Linked DNA regions of Homo sapiens: region 2 is linked to region 1. Evidence: fine-mapped expression QTL. A gene starts in region 1. The other region holds a variant in brackets. All regions are shown on one strand. Distances are from middle to middle. Region 1 holds the start of COX16 (cytochrome c oxidase assembly factor COX16). Region 2 overlaps SYNJ2BP-COX16 (SYNJ2BP-COX16 readthrough).

The links. PIP is the estimated chance that this variant, and not a neighbour inherited with it, causes the effect.
Region 2: its variant is the best candidate, but not a certain one, in a credible set for the expression of COX16 in iPS cells (PhLiPS, PIP 0.70).

What each region holds. Positions count from the first base shown.
Region 1 is chr14:70,356,615-70,362,001 of GRCh38, reverse strand. COX16 (cytochrome c oxidase assembly factor COX16) reads left to right here and starts at 2,319. Exons shown (of 4, transcript NM_016468.7): 1 at 2,319-2,483. The coding sequence starts at 2,415. All of the region lies in intron 3 of SYNJ2BP-COX16 (SYNJ2BP-COX16 readthrough), which reads left to right. It also overlaps the pseudogene RNU2-51P. RefSeq lists enhancers at 1,740-1,829, 2,290-2,599.
Region 2 is chr14:70,393,479-70,398,865 of GRCh38, reverse strand. All of the region lies in intron 1 of SYNJ2BP-COX16 (SYNJ2BP-COX16 readthrough), which reads left to right. The region is part of intron 1 of SYNJ2BP (synaptojanin 2 binding protein); the gene reads left to right. Among named protein-coding and RNA genes, the nearest start is that of SYNJ2BP, 21 kb to the left of the region's middle. The variant T/CATACATACAT (reference allele first, on the strand shown) is at 2,284.

The DNA.
Region 1 (5,387 bases):
TTTGTGTTCCCTTTTTGTGAGAATCGTAAACTGATGACAAATATCACTCATTCCGATTTAACAGATGGAAAAACTGAAGTATACAGTAGTGATGCTTAAGAAGGGCGCTATGCATAGCTGGTAAAATTTACCACCTATGTAGTATGATTTGATAGGTGCTTACATTCCTCAGTGTCACAGATTTTGTCCCCTGACAATCTGCCGGCATACCTGTAATTCCTACTGTTCACAGTTACTCCTTCAGGGCCATTTCAAGGTTCTCAATAAATGCTTATTTGAGTGATTGAACAAACAAGATACTAAAGACATAGAGTGCCTTAAATTGGATAGATGCCTTATCTGAAAAGTGTAAGATTATCGACTCTAGCATTATTTTGAATATATGTATACGATTTAACCCATTATTAGCTACTACTTAGGTGCCGGGTTTTGATGGAGTAGTATCCAGTAGGCTGATGTTTTATGTAGTGAAGATGTAGGAAAACGCTAGAGTTTTAGAGCAGCGCCTTTGGCTTCTAGGATCTTAGGGAAAGTAGGAGATGTGATACGCTTAACTAACCTGGATGCCACGTGAGATTTATTTATTTATTTTTGAAACAGGGTCTAGCTGTGTCACCCAGGCTGCAGTGCAGTGGCATGATCACGGCTCACTGTAGCCTGGACCTCCTGGGCTCAAGTGATCTTCCCACCTCAGCTTCCCAAGTAGCTGAGACCCCACCATGCCTGGCTAATTTATTATTATTATTATTATTTGTAAAGATGGGGTCTTGCTTTGTTGCTCAGGCTGGTCTCGAACTCCTGGGCTCAAATGATCCTCCTGCCTCAGCCTCCCAAACTGCAGGTATTACAGGCATGAGCCACCATGCCTGGTCTGCATGAATTTTGAAATATCAAAAGGAAGTAAATAAGATGGGAGAGATGCACCGTTCCTGGGTTTCTGGAGGTATTGAAATACAGGTTGATGTGTAGAGTGGTGGAGCAAACTCCTATTCCATCTCCTTGCTTCAAAAACCCATTTAACATATTTTCCTTGGATAGAGAATGTGTCAAATATTAAACTGTTAAGAACAGATACTACACTTGATCTTAGCCAAAAGGATAAGTTTCACTGGAGTAGCCTGCAGTAGATCTGGAGCTTCTCTTCTGGAGACCACTTAAGAGGCTACTTTAATAGGTGAAAAGATGATAAGGAATTAAAAAAAGGAACATTTCAGTGGTAACAGAGAGGCAGGGACAGATGGAAATATTTCAGGAATAGCATGGAAGATAATATTCCGCATCACCTGCACTCTGATTCACTCTGGTAAATGGGACACGTGGGGGATCGGCTTCCTAAGCTATCCCAGTACTTCACACATGTTTGTTTCTGTGCCCATGAAATCGCCAGTGTCTTTAAGGTAAGGATCATATATTTTTATCTGTGTTCCTAGAACCCTTTCAAAGACACGCTGAAAGGTGGCCTGTATGGTTGCTGAATCATTGGTAAATAGACATTCATAAATGACTAAAGATTACAGGTTATCTCACAGTAAAATCATTAGCATTAAAAGTTCAGTAATGACTGATGAGACACTACACTGATTACATTTCAACCTAATCTTTCAAAAGCGATTTATTTTTAAAAGTCTCCATTAAACTGGCAAATTCCTCATCCCACAAATAGCCATAAAGACTGGAGTACCAGCTTCAAAATACTTTTTTTTCTTTTTTCTTTTTGAGACGAAGTCTCGCTCTTGTTCCCCAGGCTGGAGTGCGATGGCGCGATCTCTGCTCATTGCAACCTCCGCCTCCCGGGTTCAAGCGATTCTCCTGCCTCGGCCCCCCAGTAGCTGGGATTACAGGCGCCTGCCACCACGCCCGGCTAATTTTTGTATTTTTTTTTTTTAATAGAGACGGGGTTTTACCATGTTGACCAGGCTGATCTAGAACTCCTGACCTCAGGTGATCTACCGGCCTCGGCCTCCCAAAGTGCTGGGATTACAGGCCACCCACCCAGGCCACCGCGCCCGGCCTCAAAATACTTTTTTCCTTAGCTGATTTTATCGAGTGGCTATGTGCCTAAGGGAGTGTTCTAAGCAGACGTTAGTTAGGACCCAGAACGTGGGAAGTACTGGTTTCCAGATCAATTTGGTGGTGATCGTAAACCGATTCAAATCTCTAAATCCCAATTGCACGCCGACGTTACGGAACCAAAAACGCTGACGCCCACATTTCTGGGCGGACGCACAAGTATGTTACGATGGCTCGATTGCTTTTGCCTAGCGGAAACCATTCACTAAGGACCGAGCACCAAATAACCAAGGAAAAGGAAGTGAGTTAAGGACGTACTCGTCTTGGTGAGAGCGTGAGCTGCTGAGATTTGGGAGTCTGCGCTAGGCCCGCTTGGAGTTCTGAGCCGATGGAAGAGTTCACTCATGTTTGCACCCGCGGTGATGCGTGCTTTTCGCAAGAACAAGACTCTCGGCTATGGAGTCCCCATGTTGGTGAGTGGAGTGAGGAGGATCTTCCGCAAGGGGTGGGACCCTCCTCCTTGGCAGGATCAAGACCTGGGAGGGAATCTGTAAAATGTGAAGTTAAGGGCTGGCACTCGGGCTAGGAAGGAGCTAGCGACGGGGTGAGAGCTTTCCTAAAAGCTCTTCCACCAGTCTTTTCCACACCCCCACTTCCCCGCCGCTGTCCCCCACTCCCGGTTGGATTTCAGGTGTACTAGGATCTGTCTGCTTGTGAGCGTGGCGTCTTTCCCATCGTCGAACGCGGTCATTGTTACTACCCTTGATTCACAGTTAAGTAAATTGAAGCTCAGAGAATTCAGTCAGAACCACACTTTAAGCCAAGTTTGGATGATTACTAAGCTTGCTTCCTCGCCCCCAACTTAGCTATGTTTTGACGATACTGTGGATCATTGGGACTAGATGTATTCCATTTAACTGCACGAATTCCTGGTATCTTTCTGTTTCATCTTTCTAGTTTGTGAATTAGCTTAATACTTAGAGTTGTGATGAACTAATAACACCTTGTGAATAAAGTGTTGAGTACGGTGCCTGCCACATTGTAGCCAGAATGATTGCTGTGTTATAATTTCTAAAGCACGTTGAAAACAGCTTCCGTGTTTATATGGTTTCATCCATATCCACACTGAGTTCCCTAAGGATGTCATGAAATGCAGGCTGAGGCTGGCTTAAGACAACCAGAGTTGAAATCCAGATGACTCTTATTTGCTTTTTGATTACGGGCCAGTTATTTTGCTTCAGCAAGCCTTGATGTGTTAGTAAATGAAATAATTAAAGCATATGAACAAAAGCTGCTTTTAAATACAGACTATATTTTTATTTTGTATGAATGTTGGCGCAGATGAAATTACCAGCTTTTCCATTTAAGCAGACTAAAGGAAAGAAGTGATCTTAGAAAGGTAATGGATATTTTACACAGTTTTGAAAAATCCACATTCATCAAATGTGGATTTTAGGAATCTCCAAAAGATTCACCCATTTGAAGTATCTGGGCCAAGCACGATGGCTCACACCTGTAATCCCAGTGTTAGGGGAAGCCAAGACAGGAGGATCGCTTTAGGTCAGGAGTTCCAAACCAGCAAGACCTCTGTCTCTCCAAAAAAAAAAAAAAAAAAAAAAATTGTTGTTTTTAGCAAATTCGATATTAGTATACTAATATATTCGTATATTAGTATATTCTTAGTTATGGAGCCATCACCACAATTTTAGAACATTTTCATTGCCCCCAAAAAAGCATCATAACTAATAGTAGTCACTTCCCATTTCTTCCTGCCTCTTAATGCTGGCCTGGTAAACCACTAATCTACTTCTACCCGTAAATTTGCTTATTCTGCACATTTCATATTAACACACTAATACAACGTGGGTTTTTTGTGACTGGATTCTTCCACTTAGAATGTTTTTAAGGTTCATTCACATTGTAACATATATCAATACTTCATTCCTTTTGATGGATATAATTCCATTGTTTGGATATATTTTATCAATTGATGAACATTTGGGTTGTTTCAATTTTTGACTATTATGAATAATGCTGCTATGAACATTTATGTACACGCTTTGTGTGGAAGTATGTTTTCATTTCTCTCAGGTAGGGAATATACCTAGACGTGGAATTGCTAGGTCATATGGTAACTCTTCAACTTTTTAGGATGTGCCAGATGTTTTCCAAAGTGGCTGCATCATTTTACATTCCCACCAGCAAGATATGATTTTCAATTTCTCCACATCCTTGCCAACACTTGTTATTGTCCATCTTTTGAATTATTACCCTTTCTAGTAGGTGTGAAGTGATACCTCATTGTGGTTTTGATTTTCATTTCCCTAACGACTTATTATGTTGAGCATCTTTTCAAATGTTTATTGGTCATTTGAATATCTTTTTGGAGAAATGTCTGTTCAAATCCTTTGCCCATTTTTTAATTGGACTATGTTTCCTTTTATTGGACAGAGGTTTCTTTAAAACCCAAAACCAACAAATCTGCCAGTCTTTGTCGAGAGGCTCTGCATGCTTTTTTGGGCATGCTTTCAACATTCAGCCATGCAATTTACAGCTCCATGTATAGCCTTCACTTCTTACTTGCTCAGAGCTTCAAATTAGTCATAAGTTGAGAATTTAGGGCCTTCTCAGGTCTTTCTTGGGCATATACATTGCTCTGGGCATGTACACAGTTCTAGTTATTTGCATGACTTTCTAAATTCTCAGGAATATATTTGAGCTTTTCAGAGTCCTCTAAGGACACCTTATTCCTATTATCTACCACATCAGACAGTCATAATGTTAAACAATTACCTCTGAATTTTTTTTTTTTTTTTTTTTTTTTTTTTTTTTTGACAAACGCTTCCTAGGAGAAGTCTGTTCATACTAGTTGAGCTCCATGTCAGGTAAACTACAGAGAGCTTTGTGAATAGCATCTTCCAGGAAGTACCAGACTGGTGAAATGATGACATTTCTCACAGAATGGTGTTTTAAAGAGCTCCAACCTCTCTACCCTCTTCACTTGGTGCCAGGCTTTACATCATGTTTGCAGGCTGTTGGTTTTCATGGTTGTTACGGAGCTTGGGTGGAGGGGTGAGAATATGACAAATTAAAAATGCCACCAAGCTGTTCTTCCTGAGATTCAGGCATTTTTCTTAGGTAAATACTGTGCACATTGTTGCAAGTTTTTGCTTAATTTTCAGAGTTCTAAAAAAGTTTATTTGACAATTTTTTACAAATATTCTCGTTTTTGTGGAGGAAAGGATTTTTGGAGATACTCCACCATGTCACTGATATCACCCTTTGGTTCTTCTTTATATCTTCTATGTCTTTGGCGAGATTTTCTAATTTTCCATTTGTTTCAAGAAAATCTGTTGTTGTTTGAAGTATTTTTATGA
Region 2 (5,387 bases), 37 kb before region 1:
AGGGCGACAGCAGGGAGCTTGTGGTGATGTCACTCCTGCTCTGAATATTTGCCCCGGCCCAATGAGGACCTGGAGCCCCCACCCCAGGCTGTGAGGAGGCACAGCTAGTGCTGGCTGCACACTTCATGGAGCAGATGAGAGCTCTGCCCTCCCAGGTGCAAAGACCTAGGCATTTCTGCACTCTTCACCCTCAGGGGCCCAGGAAGGTTCCCCCTGCACCCACAGGCTCAGGGGTGTCTTTTCCTGCTGCCTGGCCTCTCCCTGCTCCCAGTGCCTGCTCTGATCTCAGTGCAGGGTTTGGGCCAATCTGAGTGCTGTCAAAGCCCGGCCCAGTGTGTACACACTTAGGGCAGTGCTGACACACCAGCCCCTTGCTGCCTCAGCCCTCTCTGGACTTTGGGCACCAACAAGCATGAGGGGAATCCTGGGGGTGCTGAGGGCAGCTCAGCACTGGCCTGCAGGTGCCCCTTGGCACAAACAGGCTGGTCGCCATGGATGGTGGCAGGAGGCAGACAGTCTCCTGGGTGGAAGGGGGTTGGTCCCTGGTGAGGCCCCACCTTCAGGCCAAGGTGGGCCTGAAGGCTGAGGGCTGGGCTGCTAGTCCCACAGACTGGAATGGGTACATGTGGTGCCTTTTCTGGGCTGTCTGTGGCTGCCCATGGACCAGTCGGCATACACTTCTGCTCTGAGGCCCATAAATGCCCCAGGTTCAGCCACAGCAGAGAAGATGGGATGACCAGCTCCAGAGAGGAGCTACCCTCTCTGCTGAGAACTGAGTACTTGTTGAGATGACCTGCCTACAGAGAGGAGCTACCCTCTCTGCTGAGAGTTGAACACTCATTGGGATGACCTCCCTAGCAGAGAAGAGCTACTGTCTCTGCTAGGAGCCGAACACTCATCAGCACACCCTGGATGCTGAAAGGAGCTGCCCCCTGCAGGTCCCCTCTGAGCTGTTCTGTCACTCAGTAAAGCTCCTCTTTGACTTGCTGACACTCCACTTGTCTGTGTATCTCATTCTTCCTGGTTGCTGGACAAGAACTCAGGATCCATCGAATGGTGAGGCTAAGAGAGCTGTAACACAGTCAGGGCTGAGACATGCCCCTTGCTTGCCACATTGTGGGTGAAGAGAAAGAGAGAAGAGCTGCAACCCTTCATGTATCTGAGACCTGGGAGCTCCCTGAGCCAGGGCTGTGACTTTCTCCTTGGGACCCTACGGTTCCTGGCATCTCCAAGCTTCCAGATGCCATCGTGTTCCCCAGTGCCAGCTGTAGAAGCTGCTCGCGCTACGCCTGGTCCAGCTGTAGCCTTGCAGAGAGCCAGCACCTGGAGCTGCCCACCCTGCTGCAGCAGCCACACAGAGGTCTCCTGCCAGAAAAGTGACACCCCAAAGTTCCCATAACAAAACAACAGAGTGCCAAAATGTATCAAGCAAATGTTGAAAAATTGATCTGGAGAAGTAGACCATTTTATAATAATAGTTAGACCTCAGTATCCTCATTTTCAGTAATGGATAGGACAACCAACAGAAAATCAATAAGGAAAGAGAGGATTTGAACAACACTATAAACAAATTAGACCTAACAGGCGTATATATATATATAGAACACATCATCAAATAACAGCAGAGTACACATTTTTAACATACGGTGTTTGGAAAACTGTATATTCACATGCAGAAGTATGTGAAAGTTGGATTTTTGCCTTAACATTATGTACAAAAATTAACTAGAAATTTATTAAATACCTAAATGTAAGAGCTAAAACCATAAAACTCTTAGAAGAATGGAAAAAGCTTCAATACCTTCGATTTGGCTATGATTTCTTGGATGTGATACCAAAAGCACAGGCAACAAAACAAAAGATAAACCGGGCTTCATTAAAAGTAAAAAATTTTGTGTTTCAAAGGACACTATGAGGAGAGTTAAAGATAGCCCACAGAATGGGAGATAGTATTTGCCAATTATTTATTTGCTAAGAAGTTAATATCCAGCATATATAAAGAACTTTTACAGCTTAGTGACAGAAAACAACCCAATTCAAAAATGAGCAAAGGACCTGAGTAGACATTTCTCCAAAGAAGGTAATACAAATGGCCAATGGCCAATAAGCACATGAAAAAAATATTTAACATCACTAGCTGTTAGGGAAATGCAAATCAAAACCACAATTTGTTACCACTTCACACCCATTAGGATGACTATTTTACATACATACATATATATATACACATACATATATATATAAATATACATATATATACATACATATACACACATACATACA[T/CATACATACAT]ACATACACACATATCATTGGGGTAGCTGTGCATTGTTTGTGAGGATGTAAAATGGTGCAGCCACTGTGGAAAAGTTTATCACCTCCTCAAATTATTAAATATATAATTACCATGTGATTCTGCAATTCCACTCCTAGGTATATACCCAAAAGAATTGCAAGAAGGGACCGGGCGCGGTGGGTCATGCCTGTAATCCCAGCACTTTGGGAGGCTGAGGCGGGCAGATCATGAGGTCAGGAGATGGAGACCATCCTGGCTAACATGGTGAAACCCTGTCTCTACTAAAAATACCAAAAATTAGCCAGGCGTGGTGGCAGGCGCTTGTAATCCCAGTTACTCAGGAGGCTGAGGCAGGAGAATGAGTGAACCTGGGAGGCGGAGCTTTCAGTGAGCGGAGATCGCGCCACTGCTGGTCAGCCTGGGCGACAGAGCAAGACTCCATCTCAAAAAATAAAAAAAAGAATTGCAGGAAGGAACTCAAAACAGATATTTGTACACCAGTGTTCACAGCCGCCAAATGTGGAAACAACACAGATATCCTCTGCCAGATGAATAGGTAAATAAAATGTGGTATGTACATACAAAAGATTATAATTCAGCCTTAAAAAAAAGAATGAAATTCTGAAATGTGCTGCAATGTGAATGAACCTTGAAGACATTATGCTAAGCAATATAAACAAGACACAGAATAACAAATATTGTGTGATTCTACTTATATGGGGTACCTAGAATACACAAATTAATATAGACAGAAAGTATAATAGATGGTGTCAGAGTTTGGGGGAGGGGAGAATAAGGAGCTATTTTTTAGTGGGTATAGAGTTTTTATTTGAATAAAAAGTTCCAGATATAGGTGGTGGTGATGATTATACGACATTGTGAAGGTACTTAATGCCACTGAATTATACATTTAAAAATGGGTAAAATGTTAAATTTTATGTTAAGTTTATTTTACCATGATATAGATAAAGACAGACAGGGGGGTTGTGTATCCAATGGAGTTTGATTGATGTCTGGGAGAAAATTAGTCGGATTGATCTTGGGAAAGAAAAGGGAAAATAGGGTGTTTGTTACTCTAGTCTTCATAAAAGACAGACAGGGGGGTTGTGTATCCAATGGAGTTTGATTGATGTCTGGGAGAAAATTAGTCGGATTGATCTTGGGAAAGAAAAGGGAAAATAGGGTGTTTGTTACTCTAGTCTTCATAACTCAACAAGTGGCTATAATCCTTGGTGTTAATGAACTATTTTGTTTCATTTTAATTATGTCCAGAATTGTTATTTCTAGAATAACAGGTTAACACTGGTCATTTACTTTATAACTTTTAGATTTTGTAGATAAGAATCTGAATGAAATGAAGGGCTTTTCCTTTTCTGGTCTGAAGGTAAATAATAGGAACCTTGACAACAGTTACAAAACTCTATAGTGGTGAATTCTTCCTCTAGAATATATTACCCTTGGAGATTGTTCTACAACCATTATCCCAGCATTGCTTGTTCAGAGCCAGCCTGGAGACCAGTTAGCTCCTAAGATAGCCAGCAATGCTTAGAAGACTTTTTTTCTTAAAGCAGTTTATATTTTCTGCAAAGATGTATTGTAGCAAAATGGTTAAAAATTCATGCTTTGGAATCACACAGCCTGACTTAAGTCTTGGCTTTGCAAAGAGCTGTGTGACATTTTTGTAAAGTTGCTTAACCTGTCCATGCCTCACCTTTTAAACTCTTTGAAAAATGAGTACTTGTGTTTGTCAAGAAGATTAAATGAGATAATATATATAAAGTACATAGCATATTATTTGGTACATAATAAGGTCTTGGTAAACATTAGCTGTTGCTTCTGCCATTGCTCTTTTAAACAGGCTTAGGGTCCAGACCTATAGTCAGGAGTTCAAAAGAAGGGATTTCTTGTTTAACTTTCCAAGGTTCTTCTATTAGGCACACTTTCTTTCTCTCTTAATCCTATAGTGGTGTCATTCTTATGCTACCTTTACTATTTTGCATTTAGACTGCAAAATAGACACCCAGCAACCCATTTTAATCTTGCCATATTTTAAAATTTGTTGGCACATTATAACCAGAGCTCACTAAGCTCTTCATTCATTCACTAAAAAAAAAAAAAAAAAAGTTGAATCCCAGTCTTTTTTCTTCCTGCCTCTCCCCTCAACTCCTTTTGGACCTTAAATGCTAAGAGCTGAATTAATTATACCCTTTAGCTCCAAAGTACACTGTTATCATCAGTATGTTCCTCTCAGGTTCTTTTTTCACCCTTCATACCTAAACTCTATCCTGTATCTTTCTCCCCATAAGTACCCACTCTAATGTGTCTTTATATTTCTTTAAATATGCATGCATTTTTGTAAATAGTTAATATTTGTGTGTATGTTTTTATTTATAGGGAGGTGTTGTGTTATGAATATGAACATTACATTTTAAAACTCCATGTTTCTTTTTTTTTACATTTTTATATTTTTACAAGCCTGGTTACCTTGTAAATAGCTGTAATAGGTTTCTGTCTCATGGGTGGTCAGACTTTTCCTGTGAGTTAATGAAAAACTAAGAATATATTATTAAGGATCTTTTTTTTTTCCTTTGGTTTCAAATCTTTTTTTTTTTTTTTAATTTTAAGTTCTGAGATACATGTGCTGAACGTGCAGGTTTGTTACATAGGTATACATGTGCCATGGTGGTTTCCTGCACTATCAACCCGTTATCTAGGTTTTAAGCTCCGCATGCATTAGGTATTTGTCCTAATGCTCTCCCTCCCCTTACCCCCCACCCCCTGACAGGCCCTGGTGTATGATGTTCCCCTCCCTGTGTCCATGTGTTCTCATTGTTCGGCTCCCACTTATGTGAGTGAGAACATGCAGTGTTTGGTTTTCTGTTTCTGTGTTAGTTTGCTGAGGATGATGGTTTCCAGCTTCATCCATATCCCTGCAAAGGACATGAACTCATTCTTTTTTATGGCTGCATAGTATTCCATGATATATATGTGCCAATTTTCTTTATCCAGTCTATTGTTGATGGGCATTTGGGTTGGTTCCAAGTCTTTGCTATTGTAAACAGTGCTGCAGTAAACATATGTGTGCCTGTGTGTTTATAGTAGA